Linked DNA regions of Homo sapiens. The protein of the gene in region 6 purifies or fractionates together with the protein of the main gene of each other region. This does not show direct contact. Each region holds a gene or a part of one and is shown on either strand. Other genes may lie near its edges.

Evidence for each region.
Region 1: the proteins of ITGB4 (region 6) and S1PR2 purify together in Homo sapiens (co-immunoprecipitation; one study listed by IntAct). This does not show direct contact.
Region 2: the proteins of ITGB4 (region 6) and CSTF3 fractionate together in Homo sapiens (co-fractionation; one large-scale study listed by BioGRID). This does not show direct contact.
Region 3: the proteins of ITGB4 (region 6) and ITGA3 purify together in Homo sapiens (affinity purification with western blotting, with the first as the bait; one study listed by BioGRID). This does not show direct contact.
Region 4: the proteins of ITGB4 (region 6) and DNASE2B purify together in Homo sapiens (co-immunoprecipitation; one large-scale study listed by IntAct). This does not show direct contact.
Region 5: the proteins of ITGB4 (region 6) and NT5DC3 fractionate together in Homo sapiens (co-fractionation; one large-scale study listed by BioGRID). This does not show direct contact.

What each region holds. Positions count from the first base shown.
Region 1 is NC_000019.10:10,221,332-10,224,831, reverse strand, and holds the end of S1PR2 (sphingosine 1-phosphate receptor 2), read left to right. Parts: coding exon 1-988; 3' UTR 989-3,399; downstream 3,400-3,500. UniProt on the Homo sapiens protein: Receptor for the lysosphingolipid sphingosine 1-phosphate (S1P). S1P is a bioactive lysophospholipid that elicits diverse physiological effects on most types of cells and tissues.
Region 2 is NC_000011.10:33,154,981-33,158,480, forward strand, and holds part of CSTF3 (cleavage stimulation factor subunit 3), read right to left. Parts: intron 1-3,500. UniProt on the Homo sapiens protein: One of the multiple factors required for polyadenylation and 3'-end cleavage of mammalian pre-mRNAs.
Region 3 is NC_000017.11:50,054,791-50,058,909, forward strand, and holds the start of ITGA3 (integrin alpha-3 preproprotein), read left to right. Parts: upstream 1-1,319; 5' UTR 1,320-1,649; coding exon 1,650-1,855; intron 1,856-4,119.
Region 4 is NC_000001.11:84,397,126-84,401,283, reverse strand, and holds the start of DNASE2B (deoxyribonuclease-2-beta isoform 1 precursor), read right to left. Parts: upstream 2,801-4,158; 5' UTR 2,720-2,800; coding exon 2,595-2,719; intron 1-2,594. UniProt on the Homo sapiens protein: Hydrolyzes DNA under acidic conditions. Does not require divalent cations for activity. Participates in the degradation of nuclear DNA during lens cell differentiation.
Region 5 is NC_000012.12:103,831,235-103,834,734, reverse strand, and holds part of NT5DC3 (5'-nucleotidase domain-containing protein 3), read left to right. Parts: intron 1-3,500.
Region 6 is NC_000017.11:75,741,959-75,745,458, reverse strand, and holds part of ITGB4 (integrin beta-4 isoform 1 precursor), read right to left. Parts: intron 3,119-3,500; coding exon 2,970-3,118; intron 2,878-2,969; coding exon 2,698-2,877; intron 1,747-2,697; coding exon 1,598-1,746; intron 1-1,597. UniProt on the Homo sapiens protein: Integrin alpha-6/beta-4 is a receptor for laminin. Plays a critical structural role in the hemidesmosome of epithelial cells. Is required for the regulation of keratinocyte polarity and motility.

The DNA.
Region 1 (3,500 bases), on a different chromosome or scaffold from region 6:
GGAAACGCAGGAGACGACCTCCCGCCAGGTGGCCTCGGCCTTCATCGTCATCCTCTGTTGCGCCATTGTGGTGGAAAACCTTCTGGTGCTCATTGCGGTGGCCCGAAACAGCAAGTTCCACTCGGCAATGTACCTGTTTCTGGGCAACCTGGCCGCCTCCGATCTACTGGCAGGCGTGGCCTTCGTAGCCAATACCTTGCTCTCTGGCTCTGTCACGCTGAGGCTGACGCCTGTGCAGTGGTTTGCCCGGGAGGGCTCTGCCTTCATCACGCTCTCGGCCTCTGTCTTCAGCCTCCTGGCCATCGCCATTGAGCGCCACGTGGCCATTGCCAAGGTCAAGCTGTATGGCAGCGACAAGAGCTGCCGCATGCTTCTGCTCATCGGGGCCTCGTGGCTCATCTCGCTGGTCCTCGGTGGCCTGCCCATCCTTGGCTGGAACTGCCTGGGCCACCTCGAGGCCTGCTCCACTGTCCTGCCTCTCTACGCCAAGCATTATGTGCTGTGCGTGGTGACCATCTTCTCCATCATCCTGTTGGCCATCGTGGCCCTGTACGTGCGCATCTACTGCGTGGTCCGCTCAAGCCACGCTGACATGGCCGCCCCGCAGACGCTAGCCCTGCTCAAGACGGTCACCATCGTGCTAGGCGTCTTTATCGTCTGCTGGCTGCCCGCCTTCAGCATCCTCCTTCTGGACTATGCCTGTCCCGTCCACTCCTGCCCGATCCTCTACAAAGCCCACTACTTTTTCGCCGTCTCCACCCTGAATTCCCTGCTCAACCCCGTCATCTACACGTGGCGCAGCCGGGACCTGCGGCGGGAGGTGCTTCGGCCGCTGCAGTGCTGGAGGCCGGGGGTGGGGGTGCAAGGACGGAGGCGGGGCGGGACCCCGGGCCACCACCTCCTGCCACTCCGCAGCTCCAGCTCCCTGGAGAGGGGCATGCACATGCCCACGTCACCCACGTTTCTGGAGGGCAACACGGTGGTCTGAGGGTGGGGGTGGACCAACAACCAGGCCAGGGCAGAGGGGTTCATGGAGAGGCCACTGGGTGACCCCAGATAGAGACTTGGGGCTACTGAGCCAGATGCCCCCGCCCCACAGACCTGGGTGATGTTGCAAATATTTCACACCTGGAAAGGCCAGATAAGGCACTGACTAGTCACATAGCAGTGTTGCAGTGCGGTCCTGAGGGCCAGTCCAGTGGCTAGTGTGACCCCTTTAGAACTGGATCCTGGGGAGGCCAGGGCAGGGGACCTGTGAAGAGCCAGGGTGAGGGCAGGCAGCATTTAAGGGGAGCTCAGGGCAGGAGCACTTTACCACCTGGTACAAAGGATTTTTTTTTTTTTTTGAGACGGAATCTTGCACTGCTGCCCAGGCTGGAGTGCAGTGGCGTGATCTCGGCTCACCGCAAGCTCCGCCTCCTGGGTTCATGTCGTTCTCCTGCCTCAGCCTCCCAAGTAGCTGGGACTATAGGCGCCTGCCACCACACCTGGCTAATTTTTTGTACCTTTAGTAGAGATGGGGTTTCACCGTGTTAGCCAGGATGGTCTTGATCTCCTGACCTCGTGATCCGCCCGCCTCGGCCTCCCAAAGTGCTGGGATTACAGGCGTGAGCCACCGTGCCCGGCTTTTTTTTTTTTTTTTTTTTTTTTTTTTTTTTTTTTTGAGATGAAGTCTCGCTCTGTTGCCCAGGCTGGAGAGTGCAGTGGTACGGTCTCAGCTCACTGCAACCTCCACCTCCCAGGTTCAAGCGATTCTCCAGCCTGAGCCTCCTGAGTAGCTGGGATTACAGGTGCCTACCACCACGCCCAGGTAATTTTTTTTTTTTTTGTATTTTTAGTAGAGACGGGGTTTCACCATGTTGGCCAGGCTGGTCTCGAACTCCTGACCTCATGATCCGCCCGTGTTGGCCTCCCAAAGTGTGGGATTACAGGCGTAAGCCACCTCACCTGGCGGTACAAAGAATTTCTGCATTTTCTTCCCTGGCCCCTAGTCCTGCACCGATTTCTCCTTTTCGAATGTATTCCTCCTGCCACCTTCTCTGGGCAACTTCGTGCGACTACAGAACCACTGTCCTGAGGAGCTAGAGGCCTCCTCTCTGACCATCCAGAGCCCAAATCCACAGCTTCCCCAAATTTCATCAGCTGCCACTTGACGACTTCTCCCCGTCTCTCTGAGGCCCGGAAACCACGGCTGGAGGTGGGGAGGGGATGGCGGCTGAGGTCCATTCCTCATTCTCAGACCTCATTGCTCAGTTGCACTATTTGGGGCACAGAATAATCACCAAAAGTGAGAAAAACGAGTTTGGGTGGCTGGGGAGGACTTTGGGACTCTTGATGCAAGGCGCAACTTGAGAAAATTCTGGGTGTGATATTTGCACAGACACCCTCCTTTCAAAAACAGCCACCCCCCAAGCTATTCTCAGCTCCACACCTGCAGCCCCAGCTAAGGTACCAGGTCTCCTGAGCAAGGCAGAGAGAAGCCTTGAGCCTTCTCTGTGTCTTCTTTCAAGAACCCCGCTGTGTCTTCTTTCAAGATTTTTTTTTTGAGACAGTTTCAAGATTTTTGTTTTGTTTTTGAGATGGAGTCTCACTGTGTCACCCAGGCTGAGGTGGCAGTGGTTCAATCTCCGTTCACTGCCACCTCCACCTCCCGGGTTCAAGCGATTCTCCTGCTTCAGCCTCTCGAGTAGCTGGGACTACAGGCACCTGCCACCATGTCTGGCTAATTTTTGTATTTTTAGTAGAGACAGGGTTTCACTACGTTGGCCAGGCTGGTCTCAAACTCCTGACCTCAAGTGATCCGCCCGCCTCGGCCTCCCCAATTGCTGGGATTACAGGCGTGAGCCACTGTGCCCGGCCTTCTTCTTTCAAGTTATATAGAATGGAGCATGGGGGTGGCAGTGGCTAGGGACATTTCCTGGGGACACTCTCCCCTAACCCCCCAGAAGGACTTCACAAAAACCTGTGGATAATGGAAGGGATGTTACGGTACAAACGTATATTTATGTGTGTGTGTGTGTATGTGTGTGCGCGCGCGCGTGTGCACATAGGCGTGATGTCTGTGACCCTCCTCTCCTCGTCACATTTCCCCCAGAATGAATGCTGTCCTGTCTGCTCATGTTTGTGTTGAAGCTGCCAAAGTCGGGGAGCTCTGGTCCTGCCCAGACCCCTTTGGAATTGCTGGCCCATCCTCCCACTGGAGAGCTGGGGTGCAGCTCACCTTGGGGAAGGAAACCTCATGCCTCAGAGTAATTTCTTGTGAATGCAAAGCCTGGGGGAGCGGGTCTTTGGGGGGCAAGGAGCCAGTCAGGGGCTTGTTTCCCCTCATAGAGCTCCCCAGACGTGCCTCCGCAATGCCTGAAACCCAGACCTAGGCTAATAAACGGTTCAATTTCTGTTTCCTGTGGTTGGTGTGTCTTTTCGGGGAGCAATTTCCCCCAGGAGCGCCCCATGGCTGGGCTGGATGGAACAGGAGGGGGGCTGCTGCCTGAGTAACTCAT
Region 2 (3,500 bases), on a different chromosome or scaffold from region 6:
ATCCTACAATACAAAACTAATCCCTCCAAATCATCCATAGATTAAAAATCTAAACATACAAACAACTCAAAAACTTAAAAAAAAAAAGATCTTGGGCCGGGCATGGTGGCTCACACCTGTAATCCCAGCGCTTTGGAAGGCCAAGGCGGGCGGATCATGAGGTCAGGAGATCAAGACCATCCTGGCTAACACAGTGAAACCCCATCTCTATTAAAAATATAAAAAATTAGCTGGGCGTGAGGGCGTGGTGGCGGGCACCTATAGTCCCCGCTACTAGGGAGGCTGAGGTAGGAGAATAGCGTGAACCCAGGAAGCGGAGCTTGCAGCGAGCCGTGATTGCGCCACTGTGCTCCAGCCTGGGCGAAAGTGCAAGACTCTGTCTCGAAAAAATAAAAATAAAAAAATTAAAAAAAAAAAAAAGATCTTGGCTTAACATATTAGTTCAAATAATTATATTTACCATTATCTGCTTAGTAAACTTGCATATTCATCCCCTAGGAAACAAATAGCTACAAAATATAAATTAAAATCTTAACCGTTTGGAACTTAAAAGATGAGACTTCTTTCAAATATGAATAATCCAGATTTAATACACTAAATAAACTAAGTCAAACATTAGAAAAACATTAATTAGGACACACAGAAGCTTTGCCCTTCTGATTTTATTCAATATTTACTATGTATCCTAAGTTGTCCATTAATCTAAAGATAGTTTAAACAACTGCCAACTCAAATCCCTTTTTTAGCCCAATTCTCACACCATTACCAACTGTCCAACAAAACAAAACAAAAAGACTCAAATTCACAGGTAGGTCCTATCTAAAGAGAAAGATTCAGAGACATGGTAGAAAAGCTTAAAATCACCGTCACCAAATCGAAGATTTAAAAAAAAAAGCTTAAAATCATGAATTGGTATGGGTAATTGTCCAATAGGTAAAAACACCCAAATACAGATTTTGCCCTTCTGAAGGTCTATCTGGGATGTAAATGCCTACATTCCCTGAAATAATGTTGAAGGAATGCAGTATCACCTAACACAGTACCTTTCTGCTGTATCTCTAAGAAAAACCCAATTCTCATTCTTTAAGCACAGAGCAACTTCTCTTAGGAACAACTGTCCCCAAACAGAATATTTGATAATGCTCCAGTTTCCTAAGAAATATCAACAATAAAGATCAAATCAATTTGCCTGCCCAAAACTGTTACACCAAACAAGCATCACTAAAAATAGGAGGCAGAAAACTAGGAAGGGCTGTTACAGAAAGATTTTGGAAAAAATAAATCCAAAAAAACACATTGTCCAACACACATAGTTGGCTCTTTCTCTGCCTCTTCTAACCCCTACACATATATGCACCTTGACTAAAATTGGCGATACTGTTACTTCTAAACAGCTTAAGTACTAATGTTTACCTAACGAAATAAACCAGGTTTCAGGTTTCAATGCTGTGGGTGTTTCAACTTTTTCTTTCCTTATTAATAATAAGTATATAATAGGACACATACTCTTCATTATTTTCTAAATCTTCCCAAAATTATTTTTCACTAAAAACACGTATTTATGAGCCTAAATGCTCCTTTGTTAAGAACTACCAGCAATTAATTTGCGCTTCTTAGAATCATGTAGCTTTTCCAAGCTGAGGATCATTTGGCTTGTATTTTAGGCCTTCCAAATTCTAGGATAAGTTATACATTATTTAAAAGGTGAAATATGGCTGGACTCACACCTGTAATCCAACAGTTTGGAAGGCTGAGGCAGGAGGATCACTTAAGTCCAGGAGTTCAAGACCAGCCTGGGAAACACAGTGAGACCTCGTCTCTACCTAAATAGTAAATAAATAATTTTTTTTAAAAGATGCAAACTTAATCCATTCATTTACTGAATACCTTTAAGCATCAAAATATTATTTCTTAGGTCTTTAAGACATAAAGATGAATAACATCATCTCTTCAACTAAAGAAGTTCAAAACCCAATGGAAAATGTCTAAATAACAGCATATTAAATGCCTTAAGAGTAGTGCACAAGGTTAAATAGACCTAAGAATGAGATCAAAAGTTGAATCAGGCATTAAAAAAAACAAACACCACAGGCTGGGCGCAGTGGCTCACGCCTGTAATCCCAGCACTTTGGGAGGCTGAGGCAGGCAGATCACTTGAGGTCAGGAGTTCAAGACCAGCCTGGTCAACATGGTGAAACACCATTTCTACTAAAAATACAAAAAAATTAGCCGGGCATTGTGGCGTGTGCTTGTAATCCCAGCTACTCAAGAGGCTGAGGCAGGAGAATTGCTTGAACCTGGGAGGCGGAGGTTGCAGTGAGCCGAGACCGTGCCACTGCACTCCAGCCTGGGCAACAGAGCAAGACTCCATCTCAAAAAAACAAAAAACAAACACAAAAAAACAAAACCATGAAATAAATAATACAGCCATAATTCCACACAGAAATCATATGTTTGTTAGGGGGGTAAACCTATATGCAAATAGTTTTTTCACCATTAAACTGGCAAAAACAATAAGCAAGGAGCTTCAGAAGAGATCCTTGAACACTATAAGGTAATTCCAATAGCTCTCTACATGCAAAATTGAACTTCCCTACTAGAGTTGAAAAAAAAATCACAGCAATAAACCTTTAGCAGTGATTTTGCTTGTCTGCAATAATTTCCCTCTGTTAGGGGGCACAAATCACAAATCTTAGCACCAAGAGAAAAATGACTATCCATATATTTTAGTAATAAATTTAAGATAGTATCAGGTTTATTCTACAAACTTGAACTTCAATGCTACTAAAAGGCTAAATCTACACCTGCATCTTGTAGGACTCTTTGTCCACCCCATCCCTTGGCATTTTTCCAAAGCAAATCCATGATTCAATGGTTTTAATTTTTTTCTTATTATTCTTTAGTCTCATTGAGTTTATTTTTCTCATCCATGATTTCAGGTTATTTTGGATACTCTCTTTTCCTCCAGATTTTCAATATTGTCTTAAATATCAAGCAAGGTACAGCTCATTCATATTTTCCATCCTTAAGGTGTTATTTAATGGTTATTTTAGTTGAAGCTGAATACAGTATCTAGGATTTGCTTCGAAGTAATGGGGGTGAGAGAAGCAAATGAAGTCATGGAGGAAACAAGATTAGCCATAAATTGAAGCTCTATGACAGGTACTTCATATATTATACTGTTTTTCTTACATGTTTGAAATGTATTATTAAAAAGTTAAAGAAAAGGCTATATGAAGATGACTTCCTTGTTGATAATCAGATGTCTAAATTGCCTTTCAGACTTAAGGAAAAGATATAAGAACCACCAAAAAGGTTTGGACAAGTTGAGTGTGCAAAAGAAAAATGGCTATCACTGATACTAACACACTAAGAGAAATCCATGAATCCATAGCGATACTTAATCTTTAGGAAGAAAAAAAGTCTTTTTTGCAGAAAGTATGAGCCAGTAAACAGACACAGACCAACAGAATTGTGGGTTTTAAAAACAAAACAAAACC
Region 3 (4,119 bases), about 26 Mb from region 6:
AAAGTACATAGTAACCTCTTTTTTTTTTTTGAGACGACGTCTCACTCTGTCACCCAGGCTGGAGTGCAGTGGCGCGATCTCGGCTCACTGCAACCTGCGCCTCCCGGGTTCAAGCGATTCTCCTGCCCCAGCCTCCCAAATAGCTGGAACTACAGGCGCCCGCCACCACGACCGGCTAATTTTTGTATTTTTTTAGTAGAGACAGGGTTTCCCCACATTGGCCAGGCTGGTCTCGAACTCCTGACTTCGTGATCCGCCCTCCCCGGGTTCCCAAAGTGCTGGGATTACAGGCGTGAACCACTGCGCCTGGCCAGAGTAACCTCTTGAAGTTCCCTTTCGATTTGATTCCTTGGTGGAGGAGACCTTTAGTCTCCGCCCACTTACTGCCACCTGGCCCTACCCACCAAACACCTGATGGGTGCTGACGTCCGAGCCCAGTCTCCAAACACTCTGTTCGAGCTTGGGTGGGAAGAGGGAGCCTCTGGGATTCTGCTGGGCTGGGCCCTGAAGGCAGGAGTGGACGAGAAATGGATACGGTCTAGGCTCAGCTTCCCGGCTACGCAGTGCGTTCTGTGAAGGACGGACTCATTTCTACATTGACAGTCTTAGCCTTTGATACCAGAAGTCGCAGCACTTAGGGGGAAAAATGCTTTTTGGTAATTATAATTAGCGACATTTGGTTGTTACCACTGCTAAATATGTCTGTCTTTGCTGAGGAGCCAATCTCAGCTCGGATCAGGGTGAGTGGATAGGAGAAATAAATCTCGGCAAAGACAGCGAGGGGCCTGAGTGCGAGGAAGAACTCCCAGAGACCGCCAGCCACCTCTTGGGGACTCACAGCGCTGCGGAGGCGAGTCCAGCATTCTAGCCAGCCGCGCACGGACGTCGGTTCCCAGATGCGCCAATGCCAGGTCTCTCCAGCCCGGCTGGCCTTTTCAGCAGCAGCAGCAGCAGCCGCAGGAAAGCGGCCAGACAAATCCCACCCCCGGCCCCGCCCGTCACATCCATCTTGCTCCCCAGGCGACGCTTTCTCGGAGAAGCGAGGGGCGGGGAGGGGAAATCTAAGCCTTTGGGGGTTGCCGACAGGTGTTTGGGGGAGAAGGCGGAGCTGGGGTAGGGAGGATGAGGAGGGAGGGGCGGTGCTGCCCCTTTAAGAGGAGGCGGCCGAGCCGGGATCTTTTTCTCTTTCCCCGGAAGGAAAGCGCAGCCCGGGCTGGGCTCGCAAGGTGGGGAGGTGCGGGACTGGGCGTGGGGAGGCGGGGCGCGCGCCGGGGGACCCCTCCCTCCTGTCCTCCTTGCGGTCGACCGGTGCGCTTGCCAGATCCGCCGCGAAGCCGGGATCGAAGGCGACAGCGCGGCCAAGGGGGCGCGGCCGGGACAAGCTGGGGGCCGGTTGCCCGGGGCAGGGACGGCGGCGACCCGGCCGCTGGGGAGGCAGGAAGATAGACCCACGGATCTTAGGAAGGGATCCGAGAGCGCAGCTGTGAAACTGGCTGGGGCTGGGGGCACGAAACCGATCAGCGCTACGGAGCGCAGCGGCCGGCGGGTTCCAGTGTCCTCCGGCGGCGCGGGGAGCAGGTGAACAGGTCCTCACGCCCAGCTCCGCGCCCTCACGCGCTCTCGCCGGGACCCCGCTTCCGCTGGCAGCCATGGGCCCCGGCCCCAGCCGCGCGCCCCGCGCCCCACGCCTGATGCTCTGTGCGCTCGCCTTGATGGTGGCGGCCGGCGGCTGCGTCGTCTCCGCCTTCAACCTGGATACCCGATTCCTGGTAGTGAAGGAGGCCGGGAACCCGGGCAGCCTCTTCGGCTACTCGGTCGCCCTCCATCGGCAGACAGAGCGGCAGCAGCGCTACCTGTAAGTGAAGCTGGAGGGTGTGGGGTGGGAGCGAGAGAGTGTGCGAGCGCGGGATGCGGGTCCGGAGCTGAGTCGGAGCCCAGGGCAGCTGGCCCTTGGGAGCCAGGATTAAGGGGCGGCCCTCTGGCTGCTGGGGGTTGGCGGGAAGTGGAGGATTGGGTGTGGGGTCGGGCAGTAATCATTGGCAAGTGCTGACGGGGCCAGAACCTGTCTGGACGCCACCCCTCCGCCCTTTAGATCTCTCATGAGAGCGGAAGTGGGGTCCCGGTGGCTGAGTCCTCTCCCATTCTGTGAACCGAGTACCCAGCACTAGCCTGTTCTCTCCAGGGCTGGGAGCTGGGGTAAACTGCAAGATAAACACCCAGCGGACTCCCCCCTTCCCGTACGCTTGGGGGAAAAATGAGCATATACATTTAAGCACCTCGCTGGTAGTCTGCGGCCACGCCAGCCACACCCTCTGCAGAGCCAGACTGGATGGCCTTCTCAACCGCTGGCTTGGCGGATGGAGGGTGAGGCGATGGGTGAGTCTGGGCGTTTGGAGCTGTCCATACGCTCCCTCTGACGCCTTGAGGATAGGGGCGGTGAAAGAGAGAGGAGGACTTGTCCCAACTCTGGCTGGGTCTCCTCCTGCCCACCCGCAAGCAGTGGCACTCTCCCCGCAGACATCTTCCCTGCATTCCACAGATTCGTGTTGGATCTTCAACCCTGAGTGTGTTTGTTTTGGTTTGAAGAGGGAAACAGTGTTTTTCTCTTTCTTCTGTTCTCCTTCCCCAACAGCTGCAAGGAGGAGGGGAAGAGCTATGCACAGTGGAGGAAGGAGGAGGAGGTTGCACCCAGCCTCCTGGGTCCCCCTCACTCCACCAGACGCCCTCATGCCCAGGAGCATGTCCAGGCTTCAGAGGTCTCTCTGCCGTGGCCTCAGAGCGCGCGGAGGTTGGCGGTTGGGGGAGGTGAAGCTGTCCAAAGAGGGACGGTGTTTAGGACAGGTTAAGCAGGTACCATCCACCACTTTGGGCTGGGCGATCTGCCAGGCATCTGCCCCCACCTAGCCTCTGCCCCCACCTGGCCTCTGACCCCACTGAACAAGAAGACGTGGTCACATCCAGGGTACACTGGAAAATCTCCCTGCTCTGGCTGGGGCCTGCAGAGCTTGAGGAAGTTTAGAATGTCCAAAGTCCAAACTCTGCCCCCGCCTTGGTTCTGCCCTCCTGACCCAGCCTACCTACCTGGACTTAACCTCAACTCCATCTTGCTCTTGCAGAGGCTAGGGCTACCACACCCTTCCCAGCCTGGCCCCAGCAGCTGCCACCTGGCCTTAGCCAACCCTCTATCTTTTGGAGATCCTGAGCCACCATGAGCACAAGTTTCTACATCAGCTCTTTCTGCCCTAACTGAGAAAAAGATTTTCAGACTTTCAATGCCAAATCTGCATGATATAAGATAACATAGGTAAAGAGATCAGACTGGAAAGAAAGAGTCAATAATGATTCCGCAACCCTTTTGCCTGGTGACCTTGAGCAAGATATTTCCCCTCCCTGGGCCAGGTTTCCCCCAAAACGGGTTGGACCTGGATCTAGTGCTCTTTCCCACTGCTGCTGGCCTGTGAGAAGCAACTTGATATGGTAGAGGGAGAAGAGGCTTGGAGGTCCCATGGCCAGTGTCCTGTCTCAGATCTGTTACCAATACCTGAACCTGAATTTCCGCACATGTTGGAGGGAGGGGAACAGCATGCCTTCTGCTGGGATGTTAGTGGGGCTGTAACGAGATAAAGTGCGTAAAATCCTCTGCACATGTGCCTTTCTCCAAGGAGCACCTGAAGGCTCTTGCGCTGAGGCCAGAACCTGGATGCATCCTCATTACCCATGGGCCCCGCCCAGGGTGGCTGAGCAAAGGGGTTCTACTTTTCTGTCTGGGAAGCTGGAGCTGGCATTCAGCCTGCCAAGAGCCCAGAAGGTTCTAAAGCTAATGAACCTCTGAGGGGCAGTTCTCTCCCTTGAGTATCCTCAGTCTTTCCTAAGGGTGGTTCTGTGTCTTGGCCCTTCTCTTCATCTCACTAAATTCGACCCCTCGGCCATTTGGGAGAGCCAGCTGGGCTTAGCTGCAGCCAGCTGTGTAGCCAGATGCAAACAGCTGCCTGAGTGCACAACTCAGAGGAACTAACTAGTAAGACGAGCTGCAGCCTCATATTCTGTTAGCCTGAAAGTCTCTTTGGAAAAGTGGGATGGTTCGTGGTCTTGGACAGGCTCTTAAACTGGGGTTCGTAG
Region 4 (4,158 bases), on a different chromosome or scaffold from region 6:
CTATTCACATTTTCAGCCGATCATTCTTTGTTGTGGGAGCTGTCCTGTGCATTGTAAGATCCCTGCCCTCTACCTATTAGATGCCAGTAGCACTGCCAAGTTGTGACAATCAAAATTATCTCCAGACATTATCAAAAATCCTCTGAGGGCAAAATTACCCTCGGTTGAGAACCACTGATCTAGCCAAATACTTTCTAATAGCATGAACCCCACCATTAACCCCTAAACACTCACAGTGCACCAAACATTATAATATATACACTATTACCATACAACAGTGTCACAAACCCGTAAAAGCTGCACACTCTTCACTTGGTCCCCTTCGGTCTTATACTTAATTTAAGTGAACTCTTTCCTGCCCTGCTTATGCTTTCTTACAGGGTCAGGTCCTCACATGTGGCAGGAAACATGAAATTATTCTTTGGTGCTGACTTGATGGTCTCTTTCCTTACCTTTCTCAATAAATGTTAGCAGCTTGGCAACAAGTTGCTTATATTCTCTCTAACAGACATTGCTAAGTAATATGTCCATTCACTTGTGGCAAAAATGATTTTCCATATCAATCACAATTTGGTGGCCCACCAGTGAAGGGTTTGTGAACTATCAGTGTGCCGTGGCACACCAGTTGAGAGCTAGTACTTTTAAACATTTTTCCTGGGTGACTGTCTCTAATTATGTACTCAAGAGTCCTCAGTCTGTTTCTAGCCCAGACCTTTCTGCTGAGGTCCAGAGAAACCTAAACTCAAAGATGTCCCATTAACCCCCAACTCCGTATTTTTGAAACCAAATTTATAATATTTTGCTCCAAATCTGCTCATCCCACACTATTAGGGAACATATTCATGCAGTCTCAGAAGCAGAAGCCTAAAATTATTTCTTTCTTTTTCTTTCTTGTTTTGTTTTTTGTTTTTTTTTGAGACGGAGTCTCATTCTTGTTATTCAGGCTGGAGTGCAATGGCACGATCTTGGTTCACCACAACCTCCGCCTCCTGGGTTCAAGCAATTCTCCTGCCTCAGCCTCCCATGTAGCTGGGATTACAGGCATGCGTCACCATGCCTGGCTAATTTTGTATTTTTAGTAAAGATGGGGTTTCTCCATGTTGGTCAGGCTGGTCTTGAACTCCTGACCTCAGGTGATCTGTCTGCCTAGGCCTCCTAAAGTGCTGGGCTTACAGGCGTGAGCCACCACGCCTGGCCAACCTAAAATTATTTCTTAACATCTCCCTTTCTCCTACTGGCTGCAGCCCATCCATCACCAAGTCTTCTCAGCATGTCCTTCTTTCTATTTCCATGACCGCTTCTTTAACTCAGGTCTACACCTCTTCTCACCTGTAATGCTGCAAAAGTGCTCCTGGTCTCAGTGATTCTAGGCTGCTCCCCATCCATCCAGCCCTCATAGTACTGCCAATGGGTTTCCTAAAGTGCAAATCTGACCATTCACACCCCTGCGTGAAGTCCTCCAATAGCTCCCTTTCAATGTCAAGTTCAAACCTTGTAGCTCAGCACACAGACCCCTTGGCTGTCCCCACCTCTCTAACCTCACCTCCGGTCATCTTCCTGTATTCTCCTGAAGTTCCAGCAATACCAAACTACTTTGCAACTCCCAAATTTCCATGTTGCTTCTTGCCTCTCTACCTCCTCATTGCTCCTTCATTGGCCTGAGATGCTCTTGCACATCCCTTCTTTTTCCAGCTACTTCTTAATTGTTCTTAAAACTTAGCTCAAAAATTACATCCTTAGAGAAGTTTTCTGGGCTCTCTGTTCCCCAGTGTTCCACCTATGCCCTTACCACATAACTGTGAGGTCCTTGAGGGTAGGAACCATGTTTCGTTCATATTTATATTTTCAAAACTCCACACAGACCTCTGTTGAGCTCAGTAACTGAGGAAAGACTGACTACTGCCTTGAGTATATCTGTGTTCTGTAGCCTGAAGTTTACACAAAAAGCTTGACACCAACCATTATGGCAAACCTAAATATCCCAATTAAAGGGTGAAAAAGTAGTTAAAGCTTTAGGAGAACCCATGACTATAATGCAACACAGCATTTAATGTCTTTGACACTGTACAACAGGCCAGTGGCCTACGTACCAATCATGGCAACAGCTGCCTCTGCTTCCAAACAAACCGATGTTAGGCAAACAGTGCTGTGTGTGACCAGGTCCCCCTTCTCTTTCTCATAAGGAGCAGCACATGCTCCATTTTCAGAAAAAAATAATCTGCCTTCTTTACTCTGTCAGTCTTTCAAAGGATGTTGGAAGTGTTCTGTTAGGAAAAGCCATGATGTAATTAAAAGAAATTGCCAGCTCACAGAAGCTGTCAGCTCAATCCCACTTCTGTGGCTACCAGCCTTGCCCCGCTGAGAACAGTGAATCAGGCCCAAGAGGGGCTGCTCAGCTCTTTTTCAGGGGGAAACTCCGTCACTCAGAAGCCTACCCCTGCCTGGGAGTTTGGCCGATTTGCACACTTTAACTTCCTTTATTTGTAAAGGGAGGAAAGAGAATGGACATTCCCCTTAGGAACTTCGCAGTGAGCCAGGCCAACTCTGTACCGAGGCTGTTTGCATGCAGCAGTCCTTCCATTTCATTTACCTACCAGTCCACAGCTTTCCCTTCTTCATTTCTGCATGAAATTGTTGCTGCCCCCAGCACCCCAAAGAGGCCAAGGAAGAGCAAAGCAAAGGATGTTCTTAGCAGTCTTGCCATCATTTTCTGTTTCATTTATTTCATGCCACAGCAGGACACTTTCCCCATAGATTGTGGAGTCTGAGTTTCAAGGCGCTCTCAGGCTGTGCTGGCTCTGACGTTTGATTTGATTTACCTGTGCTGTTCGCTGTTCGGGGCATTTTCAGAGTGGGATGGATCCCATGTAATTGTGCGATTCTGTCACAACATGCCAGCGTGACTCTGGATGCCTTTGTGCTGAATTGTTGACTGGTTTGCAAAGTCATCAAAAAGTTCTGCAGAAAAATAGGGAAAGATAGTTCACTCTTTGGAGTGAACATTGTTGTATGAAATTCATTGGGCAGGGGGACTTCATTTTAATAAGTAGATGTTAAATATATTTCATGTCTTCTCCTGTTTGACTCAATGAATGAGAGCAAATGCAGGTGGTTCGTACATTAAACAGAAATGATAAAACCTTATGTCTTAGTAATAATTAGGATCTGTCACTTAATAATCTCTGTCTTAAGGAACCAGTTGCTAAGGGATACTTCAAAGGGTTGCTTCAAAGTAACAGTAAATTTAACTGTATTTTACCAAAGATGTTTACATATTCTCTCCATCTTCCTGGTTTTAGCCACTCAATGTGGTGCTTCAGGCTGCTATGCAATAGGTAAACATATTGATCACCCACTCTTCAGGTTAATAAAAAATGTTACAAACATCTATTTTGCCCAAACTATGCTTTCTCATTCTCGAAGCTGAATCTGAAGTAGAAAACCAAAATAAAATGGCCCACTACCATAACAACTATAAAAAGGTGAGACCAATTTCTTTGTGAATCAGGGAAGGAGTAGATAGACATATGAAAATAATTTCTTTAATGCATACTTTTGCATCAATTATTAAAGCTGCCATCATAATAAATAGCAGTTTACATCATGCCTGGAAATAATGCTGCCCCTAATCTGTCTCTCTGATAATCACAATGATAACTATAATAGTTCCAGATCAGAGGATCCAGACCAAACTGAACCCTTGTAAATCAGATTACCTCTGTGGTTGCACTAGAACTGTTCACAATTCTCAGGATTCATAGAAAAGGGGAAGGCTTGTGTCTCTATCCTAAGACAGAGTTTTGGGAGGAGGACTCTGTACCACCTGCCCAATTACCTGTGGTGCCTGCAAAAAAGGCAGAATTCTAGGACTTATTCCAAACCTGCTACATCAGAATTCTTCCAGTTGGGCTCAAGAATCTATATTTTTAATAAGCTTATTGGTGATGCTGGTGTACCCTAAAGTTTGAAACTCACTGCCCTGAGGCCAAGACTATGCTGTATTTGGTAGATTCACAGCTTTCTGCAGGTTAAATGAAGAAATATTTTTCTTACCCATTCCTCCATTGGTATTATTATTATTATTATTTTGAGATGAAGTTTTGCTCTTGTTGCCCAGGCTGGAGTGTACCCACCTCGGCCTGGGAATCCATCCACCTC
Region 5 (3,500 bases), on a different chromosome or scaffold from region 6:
CCCATCCTTCTTGTCATTTTAATTAAAAAGTTTTTTTAAAAACTTTATTTTTTAGATCAGCTTTAGATTTACAGAAAAATGACATAGTTTTTGTAAGCCCTACACCCATTTCTCTTATTAATCTCTCACATTCCTATATTTGTTCCAATTAATGAACCAATACTGATACATTATTCATTGTTTACTCAGTTTTCCTTCGTATTTACCTACCCTCCTTTTTTTCTTCCAGCCTGCCATCCAGGATAGCACACTACATTTAGTTGTCGTGTCTGTTCGGCTTCTTTAGGCTGTAACAGTTTCTCAGACTTTTTCCTGTTTTTGATGACCTACAGTTTTGAGGAGTACTGGTTACATACTTTGCAGAATGTCCCTCAATTGGAATGTTTTCCTTTTTCCTTTTTTAACTTGGGATTTTTGGATGTGTGAATGTTTATGCATCCTGTATCAAACTCAGCTCAAGAAAAGCTTCTTTATATTTTTAGGAAAAGAAATAACTGGTTTAAACCTGTAGCAAAAACATTAGCTGCTGCAGTTTTCCCCTGGAGCAGTGGTTCTCAGTGGGAGCTGGAGGGGCAGTTTTGTTCCCCAAGGGATGTTTGGCAATGCCTGGAGACCTTTTTGTCACAGCCAGGGGAGAGGGGTGCTGCTGGCCTCTAGAGGCCAGGGTTGCTGCTAAACATCCTACAGTGCACAGGGCAATATCCCACAACAAAGAATTATCTGGCCTCAACTGTTGGTAGTGCCAAGGTTGAGAATCCTCGTTCTAAAATGAATTCTAAGAAATCTTCGTGTGATCATAATTGAAAGGGCTGGATATGCCTATGTGTGGTCTCTTCTTTTCTGTTGTGCTTTAATGTTGCGTGTGTCTTCTTTGAACTCAAGCTCTGGCCTTCCAGGTGTGCTCATCAGATACTTGGCCTGTCCTGTTAGGTACAGAATGGAAGCCTTCCTACTCCTCCAAGACGGGTTGCTCCAACCTTATATTTTGTTAGTCGCACGGATTTTTTTTTTTTTTCATTAGAATTAATCTTGGAGCCTGGTTTATTTAGAATGTTTCACTACTTGGCTGGGGTTATAGGCTGTATTAAATTGTGGAAAGAAGTATGGGGATTAGTTAGAAGCTTTTATAGGGTGTTGAAAGATTTATTCAAAGTTCTGGGTGGAGACCATTTACTAATCAGTCAAAAATTATGTGCTGTATTTAGTGAGGACTGTGTCTACATGATGATGTAAGCTTAGCGTGTATAAGCATAAGACACAAGGATAATAATAATTCTATATAATATGTAATATTAAATACAGTGAATAGTAATAGTAAGCATAAGTTCCTCAAGCAACTGCATTGGGTTAAAGATACTCTTGAGATAATTTTAAAATTAGACCAATATTTCTCAGACTGTTTCACAATCTTTTGAGAGATGTGGTTAAAGAGATGTAGAAAATACATGTTAAAGAAGCTTCTTTGTAGCTGGGCTTTTCAGAGCTAGCTTCGGAGCTAGTGAGTCAGAGCCTTTAAAATGAATGAATCTCTAAAATGAATGACGGGGGTAGTAGGTTTAGTGCTTCCCAAGTAAATTTGACTGTGGAGGCCCCTTTTTGAGGTGATAAGTCTATTTTGAGGCTTGACAGAATATACTTGGGAAGTTATAATAATATGCCTAATAAGAACATATGTTGATAATACTGAAAGATGCTTACAACCAGAAATGTGCTTTTTCTACGCAGCAGGGATATAGAGTAATGGAGTCATAGGACCCACTGAGAATCTGGAGAAAGCTGTGTGTTTTTTCTTTATAAAAAGACACATTTGCAGTATTACACATAATACTTGAGCACACACAAATGATTTTGTATATAACTTCAGGGGATTCCAGGGGAATCTTAGTGTCTTCTGGTGACCCAGTGCTCATTTAGTGCTTCTGTTACGCTTTAGGAAAGTTTGAAGGATTGAGCTGTTATGCTCAATGATCCTTATGGAGGCAGAACTCAGCATGGGGACTGTTTTTTAGATTTAAATTTGCTGCTGGGTCAAGAAGCCTGCCTGGAATAATGATATTTTTTGGCCTGACTTTTGCTGCTGAGTGTTATGATTTTCTGTAATTGCCGTGGAGGTGGCTCGCTGATCTACCAGTTGAAAGCTAGAGTTCATTTTCCCCTTTCATTAGGGTGTAAATTCTGGGTAGGGTAAAGAGGAAGTGAAAGGAGAAAAAATACAAAAAGGAGATTAAATAATTTTTTTGCCAGCTTTTGAAGGTAAGACAAATTAAAAAAAAGAATTCAGTGGTCCTCAAACTGATAGGCACATCGGAATCACCTGGGAAGCTTGTTTAAAAATGGAAATTCTGAGGCCCTAACCCTGGAGATTCTGATTCCTAAAATGTGGAGGTAAGACCCGGGAATCTATATTTTTACAGGCCGGGTTTGGAAACCAATCTTTTATTGAACTCTTAAAGACATGTGGAAACAGATGTCCTCTAACCGTCAAGAGTTCTTTTGGACTTTGGCTTTCAGCAGTCTGGCAGACTAGATCGTCTAAAAACCTTTTTGTATAGAATACCCACACGCTGAAAAAAAATATAGAGGACTTTCTCTTGAAGTCATAACTGAACTCTGAGAAACTGGAGAAATCTCAAGGACTAATAATGAAGAGGAAGCCGAGGCCAGGCGTGGTGGCTCAGGCCTGTAATCCCAGAGCTTTGGGAAGCCGAGGTGGGCAGATCACTTGGGGCCAGGAGTTTGAGACCAGCCTGGGCAACATGGTGAAACCCTGTCTCTACTAAAAATACAAAAATTAGCTGGACGAGGTGGCATGAGCCTGTAATCCCAGCCACTTGGGAGGCTGAGGCGTGAGAATTGGCTTGAACCCGGGAAGTGAAGGTTGCAGTGAGCCGAGATCACACCGCTGTACTCCAGCCTGAGTGACAGATTGGGATTCTGTCTCAAAAAAAAAAAAAAAAAAAAAAAGAGGATGCTGAAACCCGAATGATGACCAGCCTTGAAGGTGTGACTGTTCTGGGAACACTTGTTGGCCTTTATTGGTCGTGCCTGCTGGGAGGGAAGACTAGGCATTGGGCGCACACACACACACTGTTGGAGACTCTCCTATAAAACCTGGTGGCCACAGAGTGCTTCCTTCCGTGCAGGGAGACAATAGAGAAACTTCTCTCTTTTGGTCTTTGCTCTAGATATTTTTTCTGTGTGTGGGGGGGCAGGTTTTGGAAGTGTCCCGTGACCTTGTAATCACAAGCTCGTCCTCACATGGATTTGGGTTTGAATTTATTCTTCTTGTATTGTCTGGCAATCTGTATGAGTCCATTCTTTTACATTGCTTTGAAGAAATACCGGAGACTGGGTAATTTATAAAGAAAGTGGTTTAATTGACTCACAGTTCCACATGGCTGGGGAGGCCTTGGGAAACTTAGAATTGTGGCAGAAGGCACCTCTTCACAGGGCATCAGGAGAGAGAATGAGTGCCAGCAGGGGAAATGCCAGATGCCTAT
Region 6 (3,500 bases):
CTGAGCCAGGTTTTGTTTCTTTGTTTTTTTGTTTGATTTTTAAAAAATTAATTATTATTATTTTTTTAGACAGGGTCTTACTCTGTTGCCTAGGCTGAAGTACAGTGGCATGAACATGGCTCACTGTAGCCTCAACCTCCTGGCCTCAAGTGATCTTCCTGCCTCAGCCTTCCAAGTAGCTGGGTCCACAAGTATGCACTACCATGCCCAGCTAATGTTTAAATTATATGTATAGACATGGTCTCACCACGTTGCCTAGGCTGGTCTTGAACTCCTGGGTTTAAGTGATTCTCCCACCTTAGCCTCCCAAAGTGCTGGGATTACAGGTGTGAGCCACCATGCCCCGCCTTTGTTTTTAATTATGGATTTGTTGCCAACATTTAAAAACTAGAAAGGCCAGGTGCACTGGCTTACACCTGTAATCCCTGCACTTTGGGAAGCCGAGGTGGGCGGATCACTTGAGATCAGGAGTTTAAGACCAGCCTGGCCAACATGGCAAAACCCCATCTCTTCTAAAAATACAAAAACTAGGCCGGGCGTGGTAGCTCACTCCTGTAATCCCAGCACTTTGGGAGGCCGAGGTGGGTGGATCACTTGAGGTCAGGAGTTCAAGACCAGCTTGGGCAACATAGCAAGACCCTGTCTCCCCCAAAAATTAAGAAGCAAAAAATCCCCACACAAAACAAAAGAAACAAAACTATGAAGCCTGTAAACCCAGTCCAGCCTGTGTGCCACCTGATTTGGCTGTACCCCAGCACTGGGGCTCAGCAGTGAAGGTGATGCTGGTCCAGCCATGGCACTCCCTGCCTTGAAGGGTTGCTCCTGCTGCTTGGCAAATTGTGACAGCCCTTGGGGAGTCTGGCCTGGGGACATGGGGTCTTCGATCCCAGCTCAAGAAACCCAAAGCCCCCTGGACTGGGGCATATAGGGGGAGTTTATCTCCAAGAGGTTTGGCTACCCTGTGGATCCTGAGTTGTAGGAGGGGACAGGAATGGTCTGGGCAGGTCCCTGGCCCATGAAGGAAGAAAGAGCCCTCTTGGGCCGGGCGCGGTGGCTCACGCCTGTAATCCCAGCACTTTGGGAGGCCAAGGCGGGCGGATCACCTGAGGTCGGGAGTTCCAGACCAGCCTGACCAACATGGAGAAACCCCGTCTCTACTAAAAACACAAAATTAGACATGCGTGGTGGCACATGCCTGTAATCCCAGCTACTAGGGAGGCTGAGGCAGCAGAATCGCTTGAACCCGAGAGGTGGAGGTTGCGGTGAGCTGAGATTGTGCCATTGCACTCCAGCCTGGGCAACAAGAGCGAAACTCTGTCTCAAAAAAAAAAAAAAAAAAAAAAGAGCGAGCCCTCTTGGCCTGAGTCCCTGGCAGCAATGGAGCCTCATCCAGCGTGTCACTGGCACCCTGGGCAGGTGAGACTCCCCTGCCACAGGGTGGCAGGAGCAGGTGGACGTGTCCTTGGGAGGCCAGCCAGGGGCACGGCCAGTATCCAGGGACTCAAGCAGCTGCCATGTGCTGCTTTGTCTTGGGAACCCAATGCGGTGCCCACGCAGCCCCCCGGGCTGCACCCTCGACCCTGTGGCGCAGCCTCACCCGGTTGCCCTGCGCGGTGCCATCCTGTGTGCGGTAGGAGACCTGGGACTTCCCGCCGTCCAGGACACGCCGGATGACAGGGATGCGGGCCACCTGGTCCCCGCGGCTGACCGAGAACTCAGGCTGCTCAAAGGACACCACGTCTCTGGCTGCAAGGAGCCCGGGCATTTGTCAGAGTGTGCTGGGCCCAGTCCCTTCCCACCTCCTGCTCTCCTGTGACCCTGCCCAGCCCAGCCCAGAATCCAGGAGTCCGCTTGGTTCCCTCTATGCATTGCCCTCTGGGAAGGGCACAGGAGCGAAACGGAAAATCCTTCCAGAAAAAGATGAGGGGCCGGGCGCAGTGGCTTGTGCCTGTAATCCCAGCACTTTGGGAGGCTGAGGCAGGTGGATCACCTGAGGTCAGGAGTTCGAGACCAGCCTGGCCAACATGGCGAAACCCCATCTCTACTAAAGATAGAAAAATTAGCTGGGCGTGGTGGCGAGTGCCTGTAATCCCAGCTACTCGGGAGGCTGAGGCAGGAGAATCACTTCAACCTGGGAGGCAGCGGTTGCAGTGAGCCAAGATGGTGCCATTGCACTCCAGCCTGGGTGGCAGAGCAAGACTCTGTCCCAAGAAAAAAAAAAGTGGTTCTGGAACAAAGTGTCCAGCAGACATCCTGGAAGGGCCAGGCAGAGGAGGGAGGCCAGTCACGGGCAGGACCAGAGATGGAGCCTTCAGCCCCAGGGCTGGAGGAGAGCAGGAACAGGCCTGAGGCCTGTGGCTTCCGGCACAGGTGGGAGGAGGGGTCAGATGTCCACGGTGTGATGCCTTGGCCAACCCTTTTTCTAGATAGAGAGGAGCAAGGGGCTGGCCCTTATGAGGATGCAACAGAAGCTTCCATTTACTGAGCGCTCACCACCAGGCAGGCACTGTGGCGAGGTGAACAGCCACGCATTCCGTAAAAGAGCCCTTACCCATTTTACAGATGGAGAAACCAAGGCTTGCAGAGGTTAAGTGACTAGCCCAGGCCACGTGGCCAGGTCGCAATTCCACTTAAGCAGGAGGAACCAGTGCCCCCGAGCCCCCGTCTGCCTTCCCCACTCTCCCCACCCAGACCCACCTTGCTCCTTGATGATGGTGATGTTTACCAGGCGGCGGCCGAGGGTGGCAGTGCCTGCGGGCACGTCGATGGCCTCCACCAGCAGCTGCTTCTCGTCGTCATCCTCAGGCCGGATAAAGAGGGGCACCCGTACGTCCACCAGCTCCACGCCCTCCTGGAACTCCACCATGCCCCGGGCGTCTGGGTGGGGGTTCGGAGGTGGTCAGAGGTGGGTCACAGGGCCACACAGGCGGGAGGTGCGAGGCAGTGGCACAGCGGACCCGCCCTCCTACCCTGGTCTGCAGTGAGGGTGTAGTAGCCGGGGGCCACCTTGAGGTCGTGGAAGGCCCTCTGTTCCACCTGCTTCTCTGTAAGCTTCAGCAGGGCCGGCTTGGCCGAGCGGGGCGCCATCAGCACTGTGTCCACAATGGTGTGGTCTTGCCTGGGTCGAGGGTGGAAGGTTCAGGCAGCGGAGGGGTCAGGCTGGCACCTGCTGCCCTGTCCCTCCTGCCTGTCTTCTCCCCTTCAGGGGCCAGGATGTAAGACAGCAAGAAGTGCAGGGTCTTCAGAGGCAGGCAGTGCTCCAGGCCTATGCCAGCCCCATACCCTTTACCCTGCAGCCTCAGCCCAGCCATGGCGCCTCCCTGTCCTCAGCGTCCTCCTCTGTGAAATGGGCTTCTCTGCCCACCTCATCAAGGGCTGGACAGCAAAGATGCTAAGGGTGTGTGTGCTCAGGCCAGGCTGCCGCGGCCCTAGCCCTGGTTCTAGTTCTCGATAGCTGGGTAACCTTGGGCAAGTCACTTAACCCTTTTGAGCCTCAGCTT